Linked DNA regions of Homo sapiens: region 1 is linked to region 2. The links come from fine-mapping of genetic effects on gene expression. A gene starts in region 2. The other region holds a variant in brackets. All regions are shown on one strand. Distances are between the middles of the regions.

The links. PIP is the estimated chance that this variant, and not a neighbour inherited with it, causes the effect.
Region 1: its variant is fine-mapped to the expression of PWP1 in whole blood (INTERVAL, PIP 0.91).

The regions. Positions count from the first base shown.
Region 1 is chr12:107,707,262-107,715,600 of GRCh38, reverse strand. PWP1 (PWP1 homolog, endonuclein) reads right to left here. Exons shown (of 15, transcript NM_007062.3): 12 at 6,585-6,675; 13 at 6,369-6,490; 14 at 5,091-5,196; 15 at 2,439-3,490. The coding sequence ends at 3,381. LOC124903010 (a long non-coding RNA gene) reads left to right here and starts at 199. Exons shown (of 2, transcript XR_007063446.1): 1 at 199-306; 2 at 3,171-3,219. The variant C/T (reference allele first, on the strand shown) is at 3,485.
Region 2 is chr12:107,682,343-107,690,681 of GRCh38, reverse strand. It overlaps PWP1 (PWP1 homolog, endonuclein), which reads right to left and starts at 4,883. Exons shown (of 15, transcript NM_007062.3): 1 at 4,711-4,883; 2 at 2,176-2,234; 3 at 1,880-2,067. The coding sequence starts at 4,782. RefSeq lists enhancers at 4,545-4,594, 4,815-5,074 and a silencer at 7,504-7,761.

The DNA of each region.
Region 1 (8,339 bases), 25 kb before region 2:
CTTGATGATATATTCAATCTTGTTTTTTCTTACATTTACCAATCCTGCCTATTTCAAAGTTCATGTCCAACATAAGTCCAATGTGTGAATTTATTACAGGTCTATCTTTCTCATGGTGCTATTTCTTAGTATGCTTAGAAATCTTTGCTGGAATGCTAGAGATTGTGTATGAAAAACTATAGAAGCTGTGGATGAAATTATCCTCTTCCAGGGAGGATTCACCCTGTCCTCTGTCAAAGTAGAGCAGGGACACCTCAATCCAGTCAAAAACTGAGCTTACTCAAGGCTGGGCTTCAGATTCCTAAGGTTAGCTCTACTGGTTTATCTCAACTTTTGGGGTATAGCCTTTGAGGGGTCACAGTGGCAGAGCTTGGAGTGTTTTTAGAGACCTTCCTTTTTGAAATCAAGTTCAATTTTTGTTTTTGCTCTGCTGCTTTTCTCAGTTTTCTTACCTTGTACAACAAAAAATTGGTAAATGCCTAAGAAAATCAGCATCATCACATGGGGTTAATTCTCTGCACATCCCTTCTCCCAGGATCTTTGCCCTCAAGTCCTGGCTGCCTTAGAAGCACTTCAGTGCCTTCAAATAGATGTTGCATGCCTCCTGTTCAGCTTTTGCTTAAGCTATACTGTCACATCTAGAAATGGAAGTATGAAACAAGTTGTTTTTGAAACAAAATCTGGCTATTTGTTCTGACAGGATGTTTTAAAAGTACTTACTTTGAAAAGACCTCCCTTGGCTGGGCACGGTGGCTCATGCCTGTAATCCCAGCACTCTGGGAGGCGAGGCAGGCGATCACCTGAGGTCAGGAGTTTGAGACCAGCCTGGCCAACATGGTGAAGCCCCATCTCCACTAAAAATACAAAAATTAGCTGGGCATGGTGGCACATGCCTGTAATCCCAGCTACTCAGGAGGCTGAGACAGGAGAATCATTCGAACCCGGGAGGCGGAGGTTGCAGTGAGCCGAGACCATGCCATTGCACTCCAGCCTGGGCAACTCAACACTCAGTCTAAAAAAACAAAAACAAAAAACAAACAAAAACCTCCTCCACCTAAAAGAGTATGTAAGAGTATAGCATACATTTCATATACCACCTTTACTGAAAAGAGCTTCATAAGATGTAGTTTGGGTTGTCCTGAAAAATTGAGGCCTTTAAGTTCTACCTGTATAATGCTCATAGAATATAGTATCATAGAAGTTGATATTTCTACTTTATAAACAGTGGGTTTTGCAGAATCTGAATTCCCAGATATAATTAGCTGGCACCTGCCTACATCTGGGTAATTATTTTTTGAGACGGAGTTTCACTCCTGTTGCCCAGGCTGGAGTGCAATGGCATGGTCTTGGCTCACTGCAATCTCCGCCTCCCAGGTTCAACTGATCCTCCTGCGTCAGTCTCCCAAGTAGCTGGGATTAACAGGCACCCACCACCATGCCCAGCTAATTTTTGTATTTTTAGTTGAGGCGGGGTTTTACCATGTTGGCCAGGCTGGTCTTGGACTCCTGACCTCGGGTGACCTGCCCACCTTGGCCTCCCAAAGTGCTGGGATTACAGGCTTGAGCCACCGTGCCCAGCCATCTGGGTAAAATTGTTTAAAAGTTAGTATCGGGTTTTCACTTTGACAAATATGTTTGGCTCCATGGCATTTCCATGTGCTATGTAATGAAAACACCAGTCACCAACAAACTACCAGTGGTGAAAATGTTACCTGTCATTCCCCCACTTTCTATGGTAGACAGGCATTCTAAGCCACACATCTTTGGGCTCAGATCTACCCACACTTAGGTGCAAAATGTACCCACGGTGGGAAGTGATGTGGAACCCTTTCCTCAGTCAGTATGACACAATCGAGCCTCCTTTTACATTTATAATCTGGGCTTGGATTTTAATCCCCATCTTACCTAGTTCCCACAGCTTGACTACCCCTATTGCCTGTCTACTCAGATGTCTTACCCACTGCCTGCACTGTCTTTTAGCAGTAACTGCAGGTCCCGGCCAGCACTCTTCTGGTCCCAGGTGCTCAGATCTGCTCTAACCAGCTACTTCAGAGGCACATTCTTTTGGCTCAGAAAACACCCCATGCTTAGCATTCATCGCACTAGCACTTTCAAGTTGGAAACAGAGGTGTCAACCCATTTACCATTTGAAAATTTTGGTATTTATTAAATACAAATTCTTATTTTAGGCAGACCTATATGACTACATAAAGCAGTAGAAGTTATTTTTTATACGTAACTAGGTCTTTTCCTGAGAATGGAAAGTCCTGGGAAGATGCCTATTTTAGAGTTATTCTTTATAGAAGAAAACATCAAATTTCAGAGAGAATTAACTGACTTTAAATCTATTAGAGGTCTCCCTCTGTTACTAATTTTTAGTGATCTGGGCCTTATTTTAATACCTAAAAGCCAAATCAAAACAAAGAAACAGAATACTCTATCCTTTAATCTCTTTAATTCACACATCTGTCTTTTGTATAAAAAGGTGTTTTGGTGAACCCACGTTGCTACACCAATGACATTCCACAGTATTAACACTAGAATGACTGAAGTCACATTCATGAAATATACAGGAAATATCAATGGTTCATGAACTGATTACTCTTCTGGCAAGTTAGGGTTGGGTCTCATATTATCAAACTAATTACGATTTTTAATGCCTACTAAAACTCATACTTAATAGGAAGACAATCTATAATTAAAACTGTCCCTTGTTAGGTGGAGAGCAAAGACTTATTCACACTGAATCTCCCATGCCTTGTATAGCACTAGGCACAGAATGGCATTCAGTGTTTTGAGAATGAATGAATGGTCTGCCTCTTGTCTTTGATAACAGTGAATATCATGCTAGGAAAACAGGGGCATGTAACTTTTACTTATCAAACTCTACGAGTTGCACTGAGAATACTCAATCATGAGCATTAATTTGAGAACAGTTAGGAATGAAAGTGGAGTCTCTGGGGCACTTGCCTCTGTTCATGGCCTCCTGTGCAATTTTAGCCAAATAACAGCCTTTCCAGGCCTAGGTTTACCTATCTTTTAATATTACCGGATTTTACGCTTTAAAAATTCTATAAATTACTACCTATTTACAAATCTAGATTAACTGTGACAGATGGTATGTTTAAGGAATTACTTTTTAAAAATCCTTTTTATTACTCTTTTTTAAGAAATGCAACAAGAGCCTTACAAACCATCCATCTGAAGAGCAAGCACAAAGACCGGATATTTGTGGTGCCACCGCAGTTGCAGAAAGGAATGTCAGTCAGAAATGAATTGTGTTTCAGTCACTCTGCATGGTTGCTGCCACGCATGGAACATTTTTAGGCCAACTTTTTAAAATTCCCAGTTAAGGTAAGCAGGAAATTAGATGATCTTCATTAAGACTCCATGGGTGTATCTGAGCTCCTGCTGCCAAAAGGGCCACTAATAGATGAATTTCTTGCACTCCCAAGAACAAGCCTCTCTCGTCTTCCAAATGCTT[C/T]ATTTACTAAAATACAAATAAACAGGTAAGAAACTAACAGATCAGGAAATTAAGTCAGAATATAAAAAGACACTAAAATGCAGAATTGTGCACTTAGTACTTTATAAATGGTAAAGTGAGTAACCAACTCAGAAGTCCAAGTTAATGTTCTGAATGAAGTGAATTATTTTTTTAAATGGTCCAATTTATTTTTGTACTTTACTTTCTTTGCCATGTCTTGGATTTATCTGATCCGCCTTGGTAACAAATGTCCCATTCCTTATAAGTGACCCTCTCCTGGCCTTATTCTACTTCTGATTGCTTCCTATTTTTTTCTTTCACTTTTCTCTGATCATAACCGGCACAGAACTTTTCGGACTTAGGACTCACACACATCAGAATAACCCAGAGAAAAATCTCAGGATCCTTGTTTTGCATGGGAGGGAGGATGCAGGAATCATACAGTGGGGAGATATATATATTATCTCTGTGTTTGTAGAACGCACCAGACTACCTCAAAGTAATAAATAAGCAGCCAGGATCCCCTGAAGGGAGAGGAGTGGCCCCTTCCGGAAAGTTGGATTTTGTAGAATTTTATAGTTGAGCAAACGGTGGATTTATTCACACTGGTAACTGTGGGGGAGAGGGCTGTTTGTTGAGACCATGCTATATTTCTTTCCAGCTTTCCCCAAAGATCTTTCAATTTTAAGATATGTATTTGTTAAATTGCTGGGAACAAGCCCCCCAAAATCTGGCCATAAACAAAATCTCTTCAGCACCGTAACATGTTCATAATGGCCCTAACGCCCAAGCTGGAAGGTTGTGGGTTTACGAATGAGGGCAAGGAACGCCTGGCCTGCCCAAGGTGGAAAACTGCTTAAAGGCATTCTTAAGCCACAAACAATAGCATGAGCGATCTCGATCTGTGTCTTAAGGGCATGTTCCTGCTGCAGTTAACTAGCCTAACCCATTCCTTTAATCCGGCCTATCCCTCGTTTCCCATAAGGGATACTTTTAGTTAATTTAATACCTATAGAAACAATGCTAAAGACTAGTTTGGTGTTAATAAATATGTGGGTAAATCTCTGTTCGGGGCTGTCTGCTCTGAAGGCTGTGAGACCCCTGATTTCCCACTTCACATCTCTATATTTCTGTGTGTGTGTCTTTAATTCCTCTAGCGCCACTGGGTTAGGGTCTCCCCAACCGAGCTGGTCTCGGCCTTAAATGATCTACACTTAAAAGTGTGAAGACAAACTTATTTGTGAACATGAACAAACATTACCAATTACATCTGATCTTGTCTCTTTCCTAAAAAGACTACACTACTTTTGCTATCTTCCTGATGTAGTCAGGACACACATTCTGCACTTGGTCTTAGCCAAAATGCTGAGAAACAATTCAAGTCACACATTCTGTGTCAGTCCTTACAGAACTCATTCAGAAAGAGGAGAGGCCAGCATGATGGCTCACACCTGTAATCCCAGCTATACAGAAGGCTGAGGACCAAGGATTGCTTGAGGCCAGGAGTTTGAGACCAGCCTGGGCAACATGGTGAGACCCTGTCTTTTTTTTTTTTTTTTTTTTTACAGGGGCAGGGGGAGGTGTGCAGAGAACTAAAAATCCTTACCTGAAGAGACTGTGCTTATATCCCAGACCCGAAGCCCTTCTTTTTGACCTCCAAAGGCATAAATAAATGGCAAATCAGGGCAACATGAAGAACAGAAGAGAACTCCCTAGAGAGAGAACAGGAAGATGGTGATTTCAATCTCTTCAGAAAGCGCTAATATCTAGATCCTCACTGTTGTCTCTAAGAATCTATGATTTAAATGGTTATTCAAAACCAACTTATGATTCTCACTTTCAAGCCTACTGCAAAGGTAGCTCAGAGTCAAGTCAGAAGGGCTAGTACTACAATATGAAGCCAGACAAGCGCAGCATGCTGGTTCTTCCACAATGATATCTGCAACTTCTGACCACTCAGGCCACTCATCTTCGTTATCACTCTGTCTCTTAGGGATTTCCTAACAAACCTAATGTGCCATGTATTTCCAGAAACTTTAGCTGTCCTTTTAAACAATAACAATGATGCCAGTTTAAATCATTTTTAAACTTTGTTTTCTTTTTTACATTTTTATTAATAGGTAATATATATTTGTTATAGAAAATATGAACAAGAAAAATATATGAAAATCTCTCAGGGAGGTAACCACGGTTTATGTTCTGGGATATAATCTACTAGAGTTAAATGTAAGCATTTAGGCAATTATGCACTTAAAAATAAGCATGAGATGGTACTACAAAAATTGCTTCTGTAACCTGTTTTTCCATTATATTTATATATATTTATTCATACACAATTTTCAACAGCTGTGCAGTGTTACTGTGTCTGCAGTCTAACTTATATAACTCAGTGGTTGGCATACAGTAGGTGCTCAGTAAATATTTCTTGAGTGAATCTGGTTATTTCTAAATTTTTCCTACTATATAGTAATTTGTTTCAGTGTAGTCAGAACTAGTTATGCAAAGAGATAAAGATACATAAACTGACCCTAATAGCTACGGTGCCCTGAGGTTCAAGATTTCTTGGGATGGTCTTGATTTCAGGGTTTTAAAAAAAAAAAAAAAAAGCAGCCATTTCACTTGTGTCCTAGAAAACCCTCTCCCCAGCCTTACCAAGCAACTGTTAATCATGTGAGTTGGAAAAGAACCAGTCACTGAATTCCCCACAAAGCGTTCTAAGTCATAAAATCCCACCAAATTTGACTAAACTCAAAATTCACTTCCCCAACACATCCATATTTGTTAATGCAATAGTTCCAACAGAAAAACACGCAACACAAGTTCCAGAAAAAGACAAGGTCAGAAACAGAATAAATAAAAAACAGATACCCAGGGAGATTCTTACCATTTTCATGTCCCTAGAATGAACTAGACTTGGCCTATCTCCTAAGATGTCCCAGATCTTCACGTATTTGTCAGCTGAAGCAGTCACGAGACAGCCCTTGATTTGACTGCTAAGATCAAGACCTAAAGGAAGATAAGTTTAGACACTTTCGCTTTGAAATACAGATTTACTTCATCATAAGTTAAGAAAAATGAAAGAAGCATTACTCTTGCTCACCAGAGATTTCATCATTGTGTGCATTAAGTGTAAAAATTGGCTTATCTGAACGTGCATCCAAATTATATACAAAGCCGTCATCTGTACTGGCCTAGAAAGAGTAAAAGATGGGCAAGGTCATGCTACGTCACAAAATCTAACAATGGGTAAAAAGTCTAAGTCATAGTGAAAATCAGCTATATGACTTACTGGTGGAACTTATGAAAAATTAACATGGACAGAAATCATTTACTTTTGGACGACCTGAGTTTGCACTCACATGGGCTAATTCAGTTGACATGTCTACTGGATATGAGTATGAAGCTGTGGTGAATGGTCTGGAATGGGGCTAGAGCAGTAGAAGAAAAGAGGCCATAGTTACATCCACGTGAACACAGGCCTGGTGAGCATGGCTACTCAAGTTGCAGGCTGAGGAAGCATCCACAGAAGTGAGTCAGAGAGGGAAGAAGGGATAGGGAAGAGTGTCAAGGAACCAAGGCGTGACCAACAGTCAAATCGACCAGTGTGGCAGAGAAATTCAATCAGATAAGGAACTTAGGAATGAAAGGCAGATTAGAGTGCATTGTTACACTGTCAAGAAAGAAAGAAGAAATGAAGGAATTAAGAGACAGATACAGAGCCAAAAATGGGAGACAGAAACCTGAGCCTGTATACAGGCCAAGGGCAACAGCCAGTACAAGAAAAAAGGATAAAGAAAGGACGGCTGAGGCAGTCTGACTGCTAGGCCAGGGAAGAGAAGGCTTGGCTCTTCTTTTGAGATGAGAGGGAAGCAGGTGAACCATTTCATCTACTTTAACCTCTCACTTCCCTAAATATTTGGGATTCTAATATATATGACCATTTGTTAGCAAATAATCTCTGGAAGTTGCGTACCTGAAGAGTGAGAGCCGAAGTACAACACAACATTCAAGTACAACTGGAATGATCATTGTAAAAATAAGTCAGGCTTCAGGCTGCCTGGCTAGAACAGCATGCACCTCTACTAATCGTGCAGAATTGAGATTAAGTATCTCAGAATCATTACTTCATGAATCTTACTAAAATTGTCCACATCTTTTGAGAAAGCTGTTTTTAAAAAACTCTTTCCCCCCTAACTCATTTTATGAGGCCAGCATCACCCTGATACCAAAGCCCGGCAGAGACACAACGAAAAAACAGAATTTTAGACCAATATCCCTGAAGAACATCGATGCAAAAATCCTCAATAAAATACTGGCAAACCGAATCCAGCAGCACATCAAAAAGCTTATCCACCATGATCAAGTGGGCTTCATCCCTGGGATGCAAGGCTGGTTCAACATACATACACACATCAATAAACGTAATCCAGCATATAAACAGAACCAAAGACAAAAACCACATGATTATCTCAATAGATGCAGAAAAGGCCTTTGACAAAATTCAACAGCCCTTCATGCTAAAACTCTCAATAAATTCGGTATTGATGAGACATATCTCAAAATAATAAGAGCTATTTATGACAAACCCACAGCCAATATCATACTGAATGGGCAAAAACTGGAAGCACTCCCTTTGAAAACTGGCACAAGACAGGGATGCCCTCTCTCACCACTCCTATTCAACACAGTGTTGGAAGTTCTGGCCAGGGCAATCAGGCAGGAGAAAGAAATAAAGGGTATTCAATTAGGAAAAGAGGAAGTCAAATTGTCCCTGTTTGCAGATGACATGATTGTATATCTAGAAAACCCCATTGTCTCAGCCCAAAATCTCCTTAAGCTGATAAGCAACTTCAGC
Region 2 (8,339 bases):
AGACCATCCCGGCCAACATGGTGAAACCCTGTCTCTACTAAAAACACGAAAATTAGCTGGGCGTGGTGGCATGTGCCTGTAATCCCAGCATTCGGGAGGCTAAGGCAGGAAAATTGCTTGAATTAGGGAGTCAGAGGCTGCAGTGAGCCGAGATTGCACTACAGCACTCTAGCCTGGGCAACAGAGCAAGACTCCGTCTCACACACACAAAAAAAAGTATATTATTTTACTCAGCATTTCAACGATATTCTAACAGATACTGATATTTTTAAGTGCCTGATTATAACTTTTTTAAACTTTTTTATTATTTAGACATGGTGTCTGTCATCCAGGATGGAATACAGTGTGATCATAGTTCACTGCAGCCTTGAACTCCTGGGCTTGAGCGATCCTGCTGCCTCAGCCTCCCAAGTAGCTGGGATTAGACATGAGCCACCACGCTCAGCTCTGCTATGTCTTATGTAATATTTTAACCATCAATTTAACAGGTAGTTGTGATTTTACTTTGTTGCAGATAACATTTGTATTAAGAGTTAATTTTTGTTTCCGATCATCTACATTTTGATTTTATAACTTGGGAGTAGCTGATTCTAGCTGTCAGGAGTCCCTTCAGCTCCCAAATATGCAGACTAACTGGGATTTACAAGTTAAGTAAATAACTTACTTAACCTGCTCAGTGTGCCAAATGCCTATTTCTCAAACCCCAAGATTAGGAGTTAGTGCCACCTAGGGTAGCACATTCCAAAAGAAACAAAGCGAGCTTTGTCAGCTCCTTTTCCATTTATCGTTATACCTACTTTCCCCAGAAGAGCAATATAGGTAGTTGTCATCTCAGCTCACTTTATTCCCCACGAGGCTTTCTATACAAACTTCTACTTCTAATCTGTCTTCTGTTCTATTTCCTTTTTCTCTTCCCACCCATGATTTTTTCTTTTTGAGATGGAGTCCCACTGTGTCACCCAGGCTGGAGTGCAGTGGCACGATCTTGGCTCACTGCAACCTCCGCCTCCCAGGTTCAAGTGATTCTCCTGCCTCAGCCTCCTGAGTAGCTGGGATTACAGATGTGCGCCACCACGCCTGGCTAAGTTTTGTATTTTTAGTAGAGACAGGGTTTCGCCATGTTGGCCCGGCTGGTCTCGAACTCCTGACCTCAAGTGATCCACCTGCCTCGGCCTCCCAAAGTGCTGGGATTACAGGCGTGAGTCACGTGCACCTGGCCTCTTTTTCTAATTATCTCCAAGAACAGCATCTCAAAATGCAGGCAGTAGTCCCCCCTTATCCACGGGGGATACATTCCAAGACCCTCAGTGGTGGTCTAAAACCACAGATAGTACCAAACCTTATATACATTATGTTTTTCCTATATGTACCTAGGAATCAAATAATGATAATATACTGTAATAAAAGTTATGTGAAAGTCATCTCTCCCAAAGTACTGTACTTTACTCACTTATTTTCAGACTGCAGTTGACTGTGGCTAACTGAAACCGAAGAAAGCAAAACCGTGGATAAGGGGGGACTACTGTATTGTGAGAAGACTGACTGCAGTTGAGGAAAAGGTATATGGATATAAGTTCAAGCACACCATAGCATTATAACTGCATACAAAAACTCACAAGTGGGTTACAGATTATTAAACCTGATATATGCAATAAAATACACAGTACTTTTTTTTTTAGATCCTAGATTTGTATCTTAGTGGGTTAGAGTTTATCTTCTAAACTAGTTTAGGAATCATGCTGTCTGCCCAAGTCTTCAACCAGATTATCTTACTGATGTCAAGAACAATAAAATCTAAGAGTAAAGCTTTGGAACACCACAAACATGATCCAACATATTGAGCTTGTAATTACAAACCATCAGAAGTGGATAAACTAACCTGGGTCACCTTCCTCATCATATTTATCTAAGTCGTACTCAGCCAGCTCATCATCATCAAGCGTCCTGTCATCCTCTGGGTCACCATCCTCCAGGGGCTCTCTTGGGCGTGCCTGGGTGCGTGCACTCTGCATGCCATCTTCTGAAGGACTGCCTGTCTCCTCTTCATCACTGCCACCACCTTCTTCTCTATGAGCACAGAAAGAAAAAGAGAATCACCCAAATGCTACCTTCTAATAACAAGACCACATGGTCATCATCATTTAAGATATAGATTTCATCTGGTCCTAAACTTACTGCAATTTCTCCTTTGCCTCAGCAATGAGGCGTTTTACTTCTTCTTTACTCAGCTCTACCTGTAAGAGAGCAAAGATTTCATTACAATATGTGTAAGGAAATCATCAAATTATTTGAATTAAAAAGTAGTTTGCAAACAAATGTAAAATGTAACGCCAAGCAATGTCATCAAGATAAGAATCAAACATCAATCCAGACTCTATATTAAAAAATATAGATTTTATAGATTCTTACAAATAAGATCTCTCGCTACCTGAAACTTCAAAAATCATGCTCATTCTACTCCACCTCTTAGTCTTAAAACTCCAAAGACTGGTTTTGGTAAAGTGGCTGTGTGGTACTCGTCTGGTTTTCTTCCAACCATCTCTGACTCTGTCTAGGGCACCTCTCCCTCTCTTCCCTGTGGGCATTCCTTAACAAATCACCCTTACATGAGTCCTCTGTTCTTTTTTTTTTTTTTTTTTTTTTTTTTTTTTGAGACGGAGTCTCGCTCTGTTGCCCAGGCTGAAGAGCAATGGCGCCATCTCGGCTCACTGCAACCTCCACCTCCCGGGTTCAAGCGATTCTCCTGCCTTAGCCTCTTGAGCAGCTGGGATTACAGGCACGCGCCACCACGCCCAGCTAATTTTTGTATTTTGGTAGAGACTGGGTTTCACCATGTTGGCCGGGCTGGTCTGGAACTCCTGACCTCAAATGATCCACCTGCCTCGGGCTCCCAAAGTGCTGGGATTACAGGCGTGAGCCACCGTGCCCGGCCTTAATTTTAATTTTTAAGAGATGTGGCATGGTCACAGCTCCCTGCAGCTGTGAACTCCTGGGCTCATGCGATCCTCCCACCTCAGCTTCCTGAATGACTAGGATTACAGGCACGAGCCACCGCAACTGGCTTGTCCAATTTCTCTCATTTGGTCCAAGTTTTCCTTTCTAGGATTTCATAAATTCAATCTCTTTTTCCTATAAACTCTTCAAATAGTGGTTCCCAGACTTATCTGTACATCAGAATCACCTAGGGAATCTTAAATAATTTAGGCTACACTACAGGCTAATTACAACACAATACTTGGGAGTGGGACATAAACATCAGTATTTTTTGAACCTCCCCAAGTGTGAGATTTTCAATGTGTAGATTCATTTGGAAATCAGTCTTCAAGTATTTGAAAGGCTATATGTCTCTTTTTAATAACTGTTTCCTCCAACAATTTTTATATGAAATAATTTTCTGTCCCTATTCTATAAATGTAACACCGAGTGCCTACCATCAACCAAACCCTGGAGAAACAGTAAATAAAACAGTCTGTGCCCAGGTGGAATTTACAACTACTGGGACTACTCCAATCCGTCATTCCTGTTAACTCCATGTCCAAGCCAATCACATTCCTATCACCATCATCATTATCTTGGTCAAGTACATTCAAATCAACCCCTTTTACTGTTTGGTAGAACTTAACTCCCACTGACATACTATATGTGCACATGTCGACTCCATAAAGGCAGGGTCTTTTTCTATTTTTTTTTTTTTTTTTTTTTTTTTTTTTTTGAGACGGAGTCTCACTCTGTTGCCCGCCCAGGCTGGAGTGCAGCTGTGCGATCTCGGCTCACTGCAAGCTCCGCCTCCCGGGTTCACGCCATTCTCCTGCCTCAGCCTCCCGAGTAGCTGGGACTACAGGCATCCACCACCACACCCGGCTAATTTTTTGTATTTTTAGTAGAGACGGGGTTTCACCGTGTTAGCCAGGATGCTCTCGATCTCCTGACCTCGTGATCCGCCCGCCTTGGCCTCCCAAAGTGCTGGGATTACAGGCGTGAGCCACCGCGCCCGGCGGGACTTTTTCTATTTTGTTCATGCCTATCCCAGGACCCTGAACAATGCCTGGCCTACAGAAAGCACTTAGTATCCAATGAGGAAATTACTTAAGTAATCGTCACCTCTGCTACAGTCTCAGTCTCCAACTCTTGTAGGTTTTTCATGTGTTAGACATTTACCTCTCATCCTCCCTGCTACCATCAACATCTCACTTGGATTACTGCAAGAAATTCCCTATTCATCTCCCAGCCTCACGACATCTTAGCCTCCACACCAGTTTTTCTACACCACATTCATCCTCACTCCTTCAGACACGGAGCACAAGAGTGGAAAGTGGAGTTTTCATGCTCTCTTCCCAGTTATGCTTGAAAATGCACTTGGGTGCTAGTGAAGCTAGTGGTGTTGTCAAAAAGCCTTTTGGGGTATTACCCACCAAAAACAGCAGCCCACCCCTTTCCGGCCCGCTAAGTCCATGTGCGTGCGAATTTGGGAGTGGGGTTGGGCTTGAGGGTGGGAACAGTGAGAAGGCGCGGCCCTTGACTCTCCAGGCTCAGGCGAACCAGACCTTCTGAACTGCAGCTCTAGTCGCGACAATCCGGGCAAAGCCGCCCTCACCCCAGCCAGTCGCACCAGCCAACGCCCCGAGTTCCGGGTCCACGTTCCCCCAGCTGGGCGGACCCCCAGTGCCGTAAAGACGCTGCTCCCCTTGTCTCCCAGCGACCAGGCCTCACCTTGTCTGGTGTCTCTTTGGCCACGCCGCAGCGGACCCAGGCCACGCACGTCACCTGGCGGCTGCGGTTCATGGTCCTCAAGTCAAGGGCGTGTCACGCTAGAAACCAGGCTGCATAGGGAGGGACCACGACCGCACTGCTGCCACACGCTCAGGGATCTGCACAGGGCCGCTGCCAGGGCAGAGCGCATGCGCAGGCTCCTGTTTGGGCAGCGTCGGCGCTCATTTCAGACGTCATTCTGAGGCGCCGAATGAGAAATAGGAGGGGACAAAATGGAAGCGGAAGCAGCCGGGCGAGGAATCCACGTGGGCTGGTCTGGGCTGTGTGAAGTATAGAGAAAAGGCTTTTCAGGACTGCATGTGACGATGCCTGCGGGCTTTGTAAAGGCCAAGAAAATATTTGGGACTGTAGGGGTCAGTCAGAAGCAAAGTTTCACCAATCTTTATTTTGCTTGCAGTTCCGTAGACTTCAAGCTGACAAATGGCAGAGGTTTGTGGTTTGCGTTTTTTAAAAAGCTTTCTCCAAAATGAATTTGTCGTTTCACGGAGATCCCACCATTACATCTCATTACATCCCTAAATGTTACTTTCTCACCTTAAAACATTTAGCACCAAAAAAAAAAGTGAGAAAAAAACATTTAGCACCAATTATATACTAACTATGCAGTAGTGATTTAGTCTTGGCAAACACAAAGGGCTTACTTATGTTGAAGGCGCTGTTTTGAGTGCCGTATCACGTGATTACTTACCCCTTTGTGGGAGGTCTTATTTCCGTTTTACACCTGGGAAAACAGCGATCCTTCCAAAGGTCACACTGCTAGTAAGCGGTGCAGCTGGGATATGAACCCGGGCAGTGTGACTCCCTTGTATCTATGTCATGCTTCTCAGCTAAGATCAGTCATCTGTTAGAACTCGTGAGTGGCTGGACGTTTGTAGAATGGAAAATCTCAAACTAGCATCCCAGAAAAATCTGGGTTTTGATCTCTTGGCTGTGTGGCCCTGTCCTGGTCATTTACCCTCAATGCATCTACCTCTGAGAGAGGCAAGCAAAAGAAACAGGAAGGTGGCTGCTATGGGGAAACAGTGGCAAGGATAAACTGGCAGTACACATGGTCTTTCCCAGTGGCATTGTCAAACGGGGGGTGTCCACCTGTGGGCTCTATTCGGGGACCTTTTTGCAACACATTTATCTTTCTATACAGTATTTTACTTGGTTCTCACAACACTTTGTTTTAAAGATGAAGCTAGAGTCCCCAGTAGTCAAATACTTTCCTACTCAGATCACACACAGAGGAGCTGATACAACTATGAGTTCTGTCACCAACTCTACTCAGCCTAATGCGCTTGGCAATCTCCCTGCCTGAGGAGAGATCCTCCCAGAAGTAAATTGCTCATTGTTTGTGTAGGCAGATTATTTGTCCATTAAGACTTCTCCCCCTGCTCTGTTTCTGTAAGATGATTCTTCTGTGGTTTCTTTGCTTTTAACCCATTTTAGAAAGACCATATGGCAGATAATATTTTTCAAGGATGGCTGCAACAATAGAGTCCTTCACACATGTTTGTCTGCAACGTGATCTTGATATTCCTCCATCAAAGCACCCCCCCCCGCCCCCACCAACTTGAATCTGGGTAGTTGTAGGTCTGCTTTGGCCAATAAAGTATGACAGAAATGATGTTTCCAAGGTTAAGTCATAAATAGGATGCAGGTTTTGCTTCCCCACCACCACACCCACTTCTCCACTTCCACACCCCCCACCCACTCCCCCACTGCCCACCAGTAGAACACTAATGTTTGGAGCCCTGAGCCACCATATAAAGTTTGGCTACTGTGGTAGTCTGTTCTCACACTGCTAATAAAGACATACCCAAGACATGATAATTTATAAAGAAAAAGAGGTTTAATGGACTCACAGTTTCAGTTGGCTGGGGAAGCCTCACAATCACTGCAGAAGGCAAAAGAGAAGAAAGGCATGTCTTACATGGCAGCAGGCAAGAAGAGAGCATGTGCAGGGGAACTCCCCTTTATAAAACTATCAGATCTCAGCTGGGTGCAGTGGCTCATGCCTGTAATCCCAGCACTTTGGGAGGCCGAGGCAGTTGGATTACAAGGTCAGGAGTTCTAGACAAGCCTGGCCAACGTAGTGAAACCCCGTCTCTACTAAAAATATAAAACTTAGCCGGGCATGGTGGTGCATACCTGTAGTCTCAGCTACTTGGGAGGCTGAGGCAGGAGAATCACCTGAACCCAGGAGGCGGAGGTTGCAGTAAGCCGAAATCGCACTGCTGCACTCCAGCCCGGGCAACAGATCAAGACTCTGTCTCAAAAAATAAAAATAAATAAAAATAAATTAATTAATTAATAAAACCATCAGATCTCATGAGACTTATTATCATGAGAAAAGCACAGGAAAACGCCGCCCGTATGATTCAATTACCTCTCACTGGGTCCCTCCTATAACACATGGGGATTATGACAATTCAAGGTGAGATTTGGGTAAGGACACAGATCCCAAACCATATCAGCTACCCTGAGTCCACTATGCTGTTAGGAAACCAAACCACATGGAGAGACCACATGTGGTACTCCAGTAGACAGTTGTAGTTTTTGAGTTAACCCAGACCTGTAAATGAAAGTGCCTTTAGGTGAATCCAGCTCCCAGACATTGATTCACTCCCAGCGTTTGAGCTTGCTCAGCTGAGACCCAGCCATCATGGAACAGAGACAAGACATCCCCACTGTGCCCTGCCCAAATTTCTGACCCCCAGAATTTGTGAGCTTAGTAAAAGATTGTTTCTAACCACTAACTTTAAAAGAAAAAATCCTTCCATAATTTTTATTATAGTAAAATATACATAACACAAAATTTGCCATTTTTAAAAAGAGACAGATTTAGGGTGGGCTCCGTGGCTCGGCCTAAATCCACTTTGCCCTCCTTTGAGAGGCCAGCACTTTGGGAGGCCAAGGCAGGAGGATCACTTGAGCCCAGGAGTTTGAGGCCGACCTGGAAAACAGCAAAATCTTGTCTCTACAAATAAAAAAATTAGCTGGGCATGGTGGTATGCACCTGTGGTCCCAGTGATGGCAGCAGCTGCTGCCATCATGCCAGCTACAGCAAGGAGGCACAGCTGGGGCTGCATGCTCCATGGAGCCAGTGGGAGCCCTGCCCCTTCTGAGTTGGGGCAGGAGCTCCCGGGGTACTGCTGCAGTCACCCAAACTGCAGCTGCAGACCCAGGCCTCCTGCTTTACAGAGCAGGCAGCAGCCACCCAAACTGCAGCTGTGGATCTGGGGCTCCCTGTGCTCTTGGTGGGAGTGGCGGGAGCAGGCAGGATCTGCCCTCCCAGGTGCAGCTGCAGCCGCCCGACCAGTGGCTGCAGACCTGGGCCTCCTGCTCCGCAGAGCAGGCAGGAGCTGGGGACAAGTGGGATCCCTGCCCCTCCCAAGTTGGCGGGGTGGGAACTCCCAGGGTGCAGCTGTGGCTGCCCTCTCAGGTGCAGGACTGGGCCATCTATATAGCCTGTGCCCTCAGGGGCCCGGGAAGGGCCCCCACAACTCTGTCACTCAGGGCTGTCTGCTTCTGCTGCCTGACTTCTCTCCTCTCTTGGAACCTGCTCAGATCTTGGAGCGGGC